Linked DNA regions of Homo sapiens. The protein of the gene in region 1 purifies or fractionates together with the protein of each later gene. This does not show direct contact. Each region holds a gene or a part of one and is shown on either strand. Other genes may lie near its edges.

What was found.
Region 2: the proteins of SYT11 (region 1) and TMEM59 purify together in Homo sapiens (co-immunoprecipitation; one large-scale study listed by IntAct). This does not show direct contact.
Region 3: the proteins of SYT11 (region 1) and AMDHD1 purify together in Homo sapiens (affinity purification with mass spectrometry; one large-scale study listed by BioGRID and IntAct). This does not show direct contact.

The regions. Positions count from the first base shown.
Region 1 is NC_000001.11:155,862,567-155,866,299, reverse strand, and holds part of SYT11 (synaptotagmin-11), read right to left. Parts: intron 1-3,733. UniProt on the Homo sapiens protein: Synaptotagmin family member involved in vesicular and membrane trafficking which does not bind Ca(2+). Inhibits clathrin-mediated and bulk endocytosis, functions to ensure precision in vesicle retrieval.
Region 2 is NC_000001.11:54,032,705-54,036,204, forward strand, and holds part of TMEM59 (transmembrane protein 59 isoform 2 precursor), read right to left. Parts: intron 1-3,500.
Region 3 is NC_000012.12:95,949,741-95,953,473, forward strand, and holds part of AMDHD1 (probable imidazolonepropionase), read left to right. Parts: intron 1-2,976; coding exon 2,977-3,083; intron 3,084-3,733.

The DNA.
Region 1 (3,733 bases):
GCTAAAATAAAATACAAAAATTAGCCAGGTGTGGTGACACACACCTGTAATCCCAGCTACTCAGGAGGCTGAGGCAGGAGAATCACTTGAAGCCGGGAGGTGGAGGTTATAGTGAGCTGAGATCGTGCCACTGCACTCCAGCCTGGGCAAAAGACCGAGACCCCATCTCAAAAAAAAAAAAAAGAAAAAAAAAAGAGAAAGAGAAATAGATTTTTTTTTTGTTTCCCTTACCCTAGTCTTATCTTTTCCCACAAAAATTGGACCCTCAAGTTTCTTCGCTCCCTCAAGTTCATTGAGGCTAAATTGGGTTTAGGCTTTAAAGGTCCAGATTAGGCCTATAGTTTTTTCCACTTTACTTTTTAGGGGACCACTTGGAAGGGAGGGAGAACTAAGGAAATAAATGTAGCCTGGGCAACATGGCAAAACCCCATCTCTACACAAAAAAATTACAAAAATTAGCAGGGCATGGTGGCACATGCCTGTAGTCCCAGCTATTTGGGAGGCCAAGGTAAGAGGATCACTTGAGCCCAGGAGGTGGAGGTTGCAGTGAGTTAAAATCGTGCCACTGCACTCCAGCCTGGGCAACAGAGCGAGGAAAAAAAAGAAAAGGAAATAGACATAATTCCAGCATTTCCCCGATTCTTTCTGGAATATTCTTTTTTTTTTTTTTTGAGACAGAGTTTTGCTCTTGTTGCCCAGGCTAAAGTACAATGGCACGATCACGGCTCACCGCAACCTCCGCCTCCAGAGTTCAAGCAATTCTCCTGCCTCAGCCTCCCGAGTAGCTGGGATTACAGGCATGCGCCACCATGTCCGGCTAATTTTTGTATTTTTAGTAGAGACAGGGTTTCTCCACGTTGGTCAGGCTGGTCTCGAACTCCTAACCGCAAGTGATCCAATTGCCTCGGCCTCCCAAAGTGCTGGGATTACAGGCATGAGCCACCGCGCCCGGCCTAAAGCATTCTTGTATCAGGCATCTGTGCAGCTCACTGCTTCACTTATCGTGAGCCCCGAACCTCACTGGATGAGGGAAATATTTCCTGTCTGCCCCAAGTAAGATAATGTCCCCATCACCCTTCCTTAATTTTCTTCATGGAGCTTATTATCCTGACATATATTTATTATCTTTCTTTGATCACTAGACAAGCTTAATAAAACAGCAACTTTGTCTGTTTTGTTCACTGCTATAGTTCCACGTCCTAGAACTATGCGGCATGTAGTAAGCGTTCAGTGAACAAAAGAGTCAGTGAATTCAAAACAGCCTCCACAGATTAGAAAGAGAGGATTGAGGCCTGGTGCGGTGGCTCATGCCTGTAATCCCAGCACTTTGGGAGGCTGAGGTAGGCAGATCACCTGAGGTCAGGAGTTCGAGACCAGCCTGGCCAACATGGTGAAACCCTGTCTCTACTAAAAATTCAAAACTTAGCCTGGCATGGTGGCAGGTGCCTGTAATCCCAGCTACCTGGGAGGCTGAGGCAGGAGAATAGCTTGAACCTCGGAGGCGGAGGCTGCAGTGAGCTGAGATTGTGCTACTGCACTCCATTCTGGGTGACAGAGTGAGACTCCATCTCAAAAAAAAAAAAAAAAAAAAGGATTGAGTCAAGATGATTACATATATCAGGGATAAATGTAAATTTCTATTTGGACTCAAAAACCTATTTATAGTCAATAACCTCACTTGATGAGTCAAAAATGACTTAGGAATTTAGGCAACCACAATCTTGGACTATAATTAGTATAATGCCTACTGTTTTCCCTTCTATTAGAGGTATCCTCTCCTATCCTCTCCAACCAATCCATGGCTTTTTCTTCCCTCCAAACCTAGATGAAGGGTTTATCTTCTCTAGAAAGCCTATGAGCATCATGAGCACAATACTATGAGCATAATGTCCAGATTACATGAGAGGCAGGTATAATTTCATCTGCACTGGTCATAATATACATGTAATATTGTGTATAGCAGTGACAATAATAAAATTGCTATTTTTTGTGTAAATTTATATGTCCCTGCCAGGCATTGTGGTAGAGCTTACTTTTTTTATTTCTTTTGAGACAGCGTCTCATTTTATTGCCTAGGCTGGAGTGCAGTGGCACAAGCTTGGCCCACTGCAACCTCCACCACCTGGGCTCAAGTGATCCTCCTGCCTCAGCCTCCTGAGTAGCTGGGACTACAGGCACATGCCATCACACCTGGCTAATTTTCGTATTTTTTGCAGAGATGGAATTTCACCATGTCACTCAGGCTGGAGTGCAGTGGCATGCATGATCGCAGCTTACTGAAGCTTTGACCTCCCCAGTTCAAATGATCTTCTTGCCTCAGCCTCCTGAGGAACTAGGACTACAGGCATGTGCCATCATGCCTGGTTAATTTTTTTTTTTTTTGAGATGGAGTCTTGCTTTGCCCAGACTTGAGTGCAATGGCGCGATCTCGGCTCACTGCAACCTCTGCCTCCCTGGTTCAAGTGATTCTCCTGCCTCAGCTTCCTGAGTAGCTGGGATTACCAGCACATGCCACTACACCTGGCCAGTTTTTGTATTTTTAGTAGAGACGGGGTTTCACCATATTGGCCACGCTGGTCTCGAACTCCTGACCTCAAGTGATCTGCCAGCCTTGGCCCCCCAAAGTGCTAGGATTACAGGCATGAGCCACCATGCCCAGCTAATTTTTAAATTTTTTTTAGAGATGAGTCTTCACTATATTGCCCAGGTGGTCTTGAACTCCTGGGCTCAAGCAATTCTGCTTTAGTCTCCACCAAATTGCTGGGATTACAGGTGCAAGCCACCATGCCTAACCAAGGAAGAGTTACATTTTATTTAAAATATATATTTATTGTTATTATTTTTTTAGAGACGTGGTCTCACTCTGTGGCCCAGGCTGGAGTGCAGTGGTGCAATCACAGCTCACTGCAGCCTTGAACTCCTGGGCTCAAGCAATCTTACTACCCTAGACTCCTGAATAGCTGGGACTACAGGACCATGCCACTATGCCTGGCTAATTAAAAAAAATTTTTTTTAGAGACAAGGTGCTATGTTGCCCAGTCTGGTTTTGAATTCCTGGCCTCAAGATCCTCTTGCCTCAGTCTCTTGAGTCGCTGGAATTATAAGCACGACCCACTGTACCCGGGTACATTTTAAAATAATATAGATAAGGAGCAAAACATTATTAACAAAATAAATCAAGGTGACCATGTCTATATCCATACCGAATAATAATAGTGTTTAGTCTCAAAGTATTAAATGAAATAGCTTTTAGGGAAAGTTTTCACAAAATGGAGACAGCCTTGGTAGTAAGCTACTTGAAGGCAGGCAGGAACAATATCCTATGGATCTTTGAATCCCTCAAGAGTCTCTTGCTTCTAATAGGAGTTCAGTAAATATTTGGTTGAACAACTAATTGGATTCAGTTGCCATTAAGAATGGGCACAGCCTAAGGAAGTGGCTCTCCATTCATCAATCAGGTGCTTTCCTGCAAATTGTTTGCTACTCATTAGTGAAACTGAACACTGTCTCTATGAGAAGAGGAACACAGCAAACTACCAAGACAGGCATATTTTTTGGAATGATCATAAAGAGAGATCTGAAGGCTTAGATTAGGAGACACCTGGGCAATTCTTTTGGCTCTATCATAGATTTATTCCCTGCAGCAGTGCGGTGGAGGAGCGGGGGGCAACCCACTGCTGCTTACATATTTACAATGCATCAACTTTTATTGTTAGAAAATGGAGATAGGGTA
Region 2 (3,500 bases), about 100 Mb from region 1:
ACAAAGAATATGCATGAAATGCTCTCACACTGATAGAAGGGTCTTCATAAATATATAAAGTTCCTTAATTGTTAATACCATATACAAGAAGACACTAAAAGAATGAAAGCATAAAACAGAATCACTGCAAATGTCATAAAACTCATTGGAGAATAATAGTAATATCTAGCATCTTTTGAGAGTAGGTAGACTTAGATATATGTATGAATGTCTCTGTCTCTTTTTTTTTTTTTTTTAAAGAGACGGGGTCTTGTTCTGTTACCCAGGCTGGAGTGCAGTGGTGTGATCATAGCTCACTACTAGGCCTTGAACTCCTGGGCTCAAGTGATTCTCCTGCCTCAGCCTCCTGAGTAGCTAGGACTATAGGCATGCACCACCATGCCCAGCTAATTTTTCTTTTTTCTTTCTTTCTTTTTTTTTTCTTTCTTTTTTTTTTTTAAATGATGGGGTCTTGCTATGTTGCCTAGGCTGGTCTCAGACTCCTGGCCTCAAGTGATCCTCCTACCTTGGCCTCCCAAAGTGTTGGGATACATGTGTGAGCCACTAGGCCTGTCCGTATGTATCTCTTAAAGGCAGAAAAGCAAAGTGAAAAGTCTCCACTAAGAAACGGCATAGGCTGGGTGCGGTGGCTCATGCCTGTAATCCCAGCATTTTGGGAGGCTGAGGCGGGCGGATCACTTCAGGTCAGGAGCTCGAGACCAGCCTGGCTAACATGGTGAAACCCGGTCTCCACTAAAAATACAAAAAATTAGCCAGGCATGGTGGTACATGCCTGTAATTCCAGCTACTCAGGAGGTTGAGGCACAAGAATCACTTGAGCCCGGGAGGCAGAGATTGCAGTGGGGTGAGATCGCGACACTGCCCTCCAGCCTGGGGGACAGAGTGAGACTCTGTCTCACAAAAAAAAAAAAAAAAAAAAATGGTATAGATTCTGTTGTTAATCTACTCATACGGCAACAAATCCCTGTATCCAAAAGTTAGAAACTGAAGTGCTGATATCACTGGCAGGACAACTGACTAGATTATAAAGCAAGAACTCCACAGAAGTACCCGATACTGGAAAGGTGTTTTTAAAAGATGCTGAATAAAGAGCACCTTCAAGAGTTTATCAAAAGTGATACATGCTATCCTGGCTGGGCGTGGTGGCTCAAGCCTGTAATCCCAGCACTTTGGGAGGCTGAGGAAGGTGGATCACCTGAGGTCAGGCGTTCCAGACCAGTCTGGCCAACATGGTGAAACCCCATCTCTACTAAAAATACAAAAATTAGCTGGGTGTGGTGGTGCATGCCTGTAGTCCCAGCTACTAGGGAGGCCGAGGTAGGAGAATCGCTTGAACCCGAGAGGCAGAGGTTTGCAGTGAGCCGAGATCGCACCACTGCACTCTAGCCTGGGCGATAGAGCAAGACTCCATCTCAAAAAAAAAAAAAAAAAAAAAAGTGATAAAGTGATACATGCTATAACATGATGAACCTTGAAAATATGCTTAGTCAAAGAGGCCAGTCACAAGAGACTACATATTGGCTATCTAGGGCTGGAGGGTGAGATGGGGGTAGGGGTGGTGCAGCTGCTGCTGCTTGGGAGAAAATGGGGAGCAATTACTAAGAGTATAGATTTTCTTTCTGGGCTGATGAAAATGTTCTAAAAGTGATTGTCACGATAGTTGCTTACTCACACATGTTTCAGATGTGTTCTACTGGACGGTTGCCTCAGGGGAACAACTATCCTGCAAGGAGGTGCCCCAGTACCTTAAGCTTTTCCAGTATGAGAGTAGCTTTAAGACAAGTTCAGGCCAGGCGCAGTGGCTCACACCTGTAATCCCAGCACTTTGGGAGGCTAAGGCAGGCGAATCACTTGAGGTCAGGAGTTCGAGACCAACCTGGCCAACATGGTGAAACCCCATCTCTACTAAAAATACAAAAATAAGCTGGGTGTGGTGGTGTGCGCTTGTAGTCCCAGCCACTCGGCAGGCTGAGACACAAGAATCGCTTGAACCCGGGAGGTGGAGATTGCAGTGAGCTGAGATCGTGCCATTGCACTCCAGCCTCAGCGACAGTGCGAGACCCTGTCTAAAAAAAGAAAAAAGAAAGTTCAGTGGTTGATGGGTTGGACGTGGATCTGATGGATCTGATATAGCAGGCCTCCATAAAACTCAGAATTCACATGTGACCGTTGGCTCTGGGGCACTGTGAAAGAAAAATGTTCACAACTCTACCTAACAATATTTAAAGATCTTGAAGCAGCAACCAGGAACTGTTTGATTTTATACATCAACATGAAAGAAGCCACTGAAGGGAGGTAGGAGACTGAGGAGATGTTGGTTAAAGGACACAACATTTCAGTTAGATGGGAAGAATATGAAGATACATGAAAATACTTTGTAAATTTTAACGACTATATAAATGTTAGTTATCAACATTATCCTGTCCCAGTTTCCAGGTACCTACATCAATTATATCACCTTAATAAAAATATTAAGTGTAATATTATCTTAATCATTTTTCATGTGCAAATCATATATTTAAACATCTTTATAGTCTATTAGGATAAGACAGTTGTTCAGGCACCATGTTAGGCACATGCCAATGGCTTATTATTAGATTCTAATTTCTGTCTTTTCTCTTTTTCTATGGTACTTTGGAGGCATAAGAAAACTAAAGTTTATTTCAGTTGGATTAGATGTTGACAGCCATTATTATTCTATATTTAGTTATATAAATACTTTTCTGTTCTTGAAAGCTAAGTTGAATAATTAAATTATAGCCTTTCCCCCAAACAAAAATCCTTTACCTTAACAGTTATATTTTTTGGGCCAGTTAAATTTTAATTACCAAGGAAGTCACAATGTCTCCCATCTCTTTTGGGGTTAGATACCAGAATATAACAACTCAAAATCAAACACTCCAGCATTTTTTTTTCTTTTCTTTTGAGACTCAGGGTCTTGTTCTGTCACCAGGCTGGAGTACAGTGGCACAATCCTGGCTCACTGCAGCCTCAACCTCCTGGGCTCAAGTGATCCTCCCACCTCAGCCTCCTAAGTAGCTGGGATCACGGGCACGCACCACCATACCCAGATAATTTTTATAATTTTTCATAGAGACAGGATCTCATCATGTTGCCCAGGCTGGTCTCAAATTCTTGAGCTCAAGTGATCCTCCTGCCTAGGCTTCCCAAAGTGCTGGGATTAGAGAGGCATGAGCACCACACCTGGCCCAGCCTTGCTGCTTCTAAAGCAGCACTGATCCTTAATATTGTGGTAATTAATTTAAACTATTAAGTGGTTCTACAAGTCTTCTCTCTGGCTGGGTATGGTGGCTCACGCCTGTAATCCCAACACTTTGGGAGGCAGAGGTGGGCAGGTCACTTGAGATCAGGAGTTCAGGACCAGACTGGTCAATATGGTGAAACTCCATTTCTACTGAATATACAAAAATTAGCTGGACATGGTGGCGCATGCTTGTAGTCCCAGCTACTCGGGAGGCTGAGGAAGAATCACTTGAACC
Region 3 (3,733 bases), on another chromosome or scaffold:
AGTGAAAATCTCACCATAGCAGTAATATGTATCTTTGTAATTTTAATGACTACCTTAAAAAAACACTTTTGGGGGAATGCTTTTTGTTGGTTTCCTTCAATAACTGCCCTCATTATGTCCTCAACAAAGGAACATAAGCCTTTGTTCAAACATAGGTACATCCACAGATGAATGAGAGAACCACACTGTTGAAAGGTAGATAAGCATGGGATTAGTGGGGTCAGGAAGAGGACCCAGTGCCCTCAAAATTCACCTCCTGCACAGACGGAGAATGTTAGAGATTTATTTCTTAGGTTTGACTTTGTTAAAACAACCTCTCTTAAAGCAGTGTCAGTCATTAACTCTTTGCATAAGAGCATTCTCTTTGTTCTTTCCCATTCAAGGGTCAATTTCTAATCCTGCCGGTCCTTTCCACCACCAGATTCACTGCACACTGGGTAGATTATCTAACTGGGCCAGATAAAAGCTGTTAGTGATGAAGAATTGTCTTAATCAGGATACTAAATTCTATTTCAAGACTTAATTTCTTATTCCACCCTAAGTTTATCCTCCCCAAATCTCCCACAATCATTATTTCTTTTCCTATCATAACATCTTCTCTTTCCATCCAGTTTCTTCTGCTCTTCCACTCTTACATTTTGTTAGGTTACCCCAACCACTTCTGTCCCAGTTCGGAATCCCTTATCCTAATTGCTTTTCACAACACATTCCAGCTCTCAGGTTTATAGCCCTCAATCTCCATGTTGGAAATACGAATTTGTTGTAAGTGACCAAGACCTAAATTAATAGTGGCTGAAACAAGATGGAAGTATATTTCTCTCCTATGTGAAAATCCAGACATACGAATGCAGGGCTAGTTGATTGCAATACTCCATGGGGTCCTTAGGAGCCAGGCCCCTGCTGCCTTGCTCTCCCATGCATGGCCCACTTTCTTACACTCACTCCATGACCCAAGATGGCCACCCCATCTCTAGTTGTGGTGTCTGCATTCCAGCCAGTAAGAATAGGAAGAGAAGACAATCTTACCGGCTAGACCTTAGTCTCATAGCCACACCTGGCTAGTGGGAGGTGGGGAAATGTAGTCTGTATTTTGGGTCATCATGTGTCCAGCTAAAATTTAGGGCTCTACTAGTGTAAAAAAGGGAACATTGATCTTGGGGAACAAATGGCAATTGTCTGCTACATATATTTGACGTTTAAAGTTTTTTTAATTGTAAATTTTCATGGGTACATATATATGGGGTACATGAGTTATTTTAAACAGTCGTACAATGTGTAATAATTATATCAGGGTAAATGGGGTTTCCATCATCTCAAGCATTCATCATTTCCTGGTGTTACAAACATTCCAATCGTACTCCCTCAGTTATTCTAAAATGTGCAACATATTATTGCTGATTGTAGTCACCCTGTTGTGATATCAAATACTGGGTCTTATTCACTGTATCTAACCATATTTTTCTAGCCATTAACAATCCCCATTTTTCTCCTCTCCCCTTCTATTCTTCCCAGCCTCTGGTAACCATCATTTTACTCTCTATCTCCATGAGCTCAATTGTTTTCATTTTTAGCTCCCACAAATGAATGAGAATATGCCAAGTTTGTCTTTCTGTGCCTGGCTTATTTCACTTAACATAATGTCCTCCAGTTCTATCCATGTTGTTGCAATTGACAGAATCTCACTCTTTTTTATGGCTGAATAGTACTCCATTGTGTGTATGTATTACATTTTCTTTATCCATTCATTTGTGGGTGGGCACTTAGTGTACTTCCAAATCTTGGCTATTGTGAATAGTGCTGCAATTAACATGGGATGCAGACATCTCTTTAATATACTGACTTCCTTTCTTTTGCATATAGATCTACCAGTGGGATTGCTGGATCATATGGTAGCTCTATTTTTAGTTTTTGAGGAACTTTCATACTCTCCATAGTGGCTGTACTGATTTACATTTCTAACAGTGTACAAGGGTTCCTCTTTCTCCACATTCTTGCCAGCATTTTTTATTGCCTGTCTTTTGGATAAAAGCCATTTTAACTGGGGTAAGATGATCTCTCATTGTGGTTTTGTTTGCATTTCTCTGAAGATCATTGATGTTGAGCACCTTTTCATATACCTGTTTGCCATTTGTATCTCTTCTTTTGAAAAATGTCTATTCAGATCTTTTGTCCATTTCTTAATCAGATTATTAGGTTTTTTCCTATTGAGCTGTTTGAGCTCCTTATATATTCTGGTTTTTAATCCCTTGTCAATTAGATAGTGTGCAAATTATTTTCTCCCATTCTGTGGGTTGTTTCTTCACATTGTTGATTATTTTCTTTGCTGTACAGAAGGCTTTTACCTTGAAGTGATCCCATTTGTCCATTTTTGGCTTGGTTGCCTGTTCTTGTGGGGTATCCCTCAAGAAATTGTTGCCTGAACCAATGTCCTAGAGAGTTTTCCCAAGGTCTTCTTTGAGTAGTTTCATAGTTTAAGTTCTTAGATTTCAGTCTTTAACCCATTTAGATTTGATTTCATTCTTTTGCATATGGATAGCCAGTTTCCCTAGCACCATTTATTGAAGAGACTGTCTTTTCCCCAATGTACGTTCTTGGCATCTTTGCTGAAAATGAGTTCACTGTAGATGTATGGACTTATTTCTGGGTTCACTATTCTGTTCCACTGGTCTATGTGTCTGTTTTTTATGCCAGTACCATGCTCTTTTGGTTACTATAGTTCTGTAGTATAATTTGAAGTCAGGTAATGTGATTCCTCCAGTTTTGTTCATTTTGCTGAGGAGGCTTTGGCTAATCTGGGTCTTTTATGGTTGCCTCGAATGTGGCTAGAGACGCTTTTCCAGACTCAGGTTCAAGATAGAAGCACAGTAAATGTTGACTAATTAACACCAAAGAATCTGAAAACATATTTTAAGTCACTCATCAGATTTCTCACAAGATTTCCCCAAATTTAATAACTATTTCTTGATTTTTCTTCAGAGATGGATTTATAAAAGCTATTGGTCCTGCTGATGTTATTCAAAGACAGTTTTCTGGAGAAACTTTTGAAGAAATAATTGACTGCTCTGGGAAATGTATTCTACCAGGTATTTACCTCTTTTTCAGTAAAGGTCTACAAGTAGCTTTAACAGTTGCTCCTGAAATGTAAAGAGGAAGAGTAACAGCTTATTTTAAAGTCTCAAAATAATATTTAAAAAAAATCATCGTTCCATGTATTGAATTTCTATTATTGAATGTATAGCTGCTTTCAAACATGGTTTCACCTTGAATCCTTATAACTGCCCTGTGTGGGAGGTATCATTATCTATACTTTACAGATTAGAAAATTGAAGCTAAGGGTGAAATATGTTACCCAAGGTTCCTAAACAGGAAACAGACAACCTAGGAATCAAGCCCATTCATTCGACTCCACTTCTTCCCACTCACATGCTGAATAGAAACCAGCTGTGTTGTGTTTAGGTTCAAAAACAGTCAAAAGAACTTTATTAATCCATGGCATAGGAGAGGCTAACAAGGCAGCTGCTGTCTCTAATACTAGAAATACTCTAAATTTGTATAGGATGTGAAACAAAGGATCCAGCTCTGGGCAGAAAAAGAAAAACAAAAATCCTAGAGCTTTCACTGCAGTTCACTTGTATCTTTGATGATTGACAACAGAATCAGTTTATTAACCATCATCTCCTACATTATGTTGTATGGCTTCATATAATCATCCAAAACAAGTTTCACAAACTTT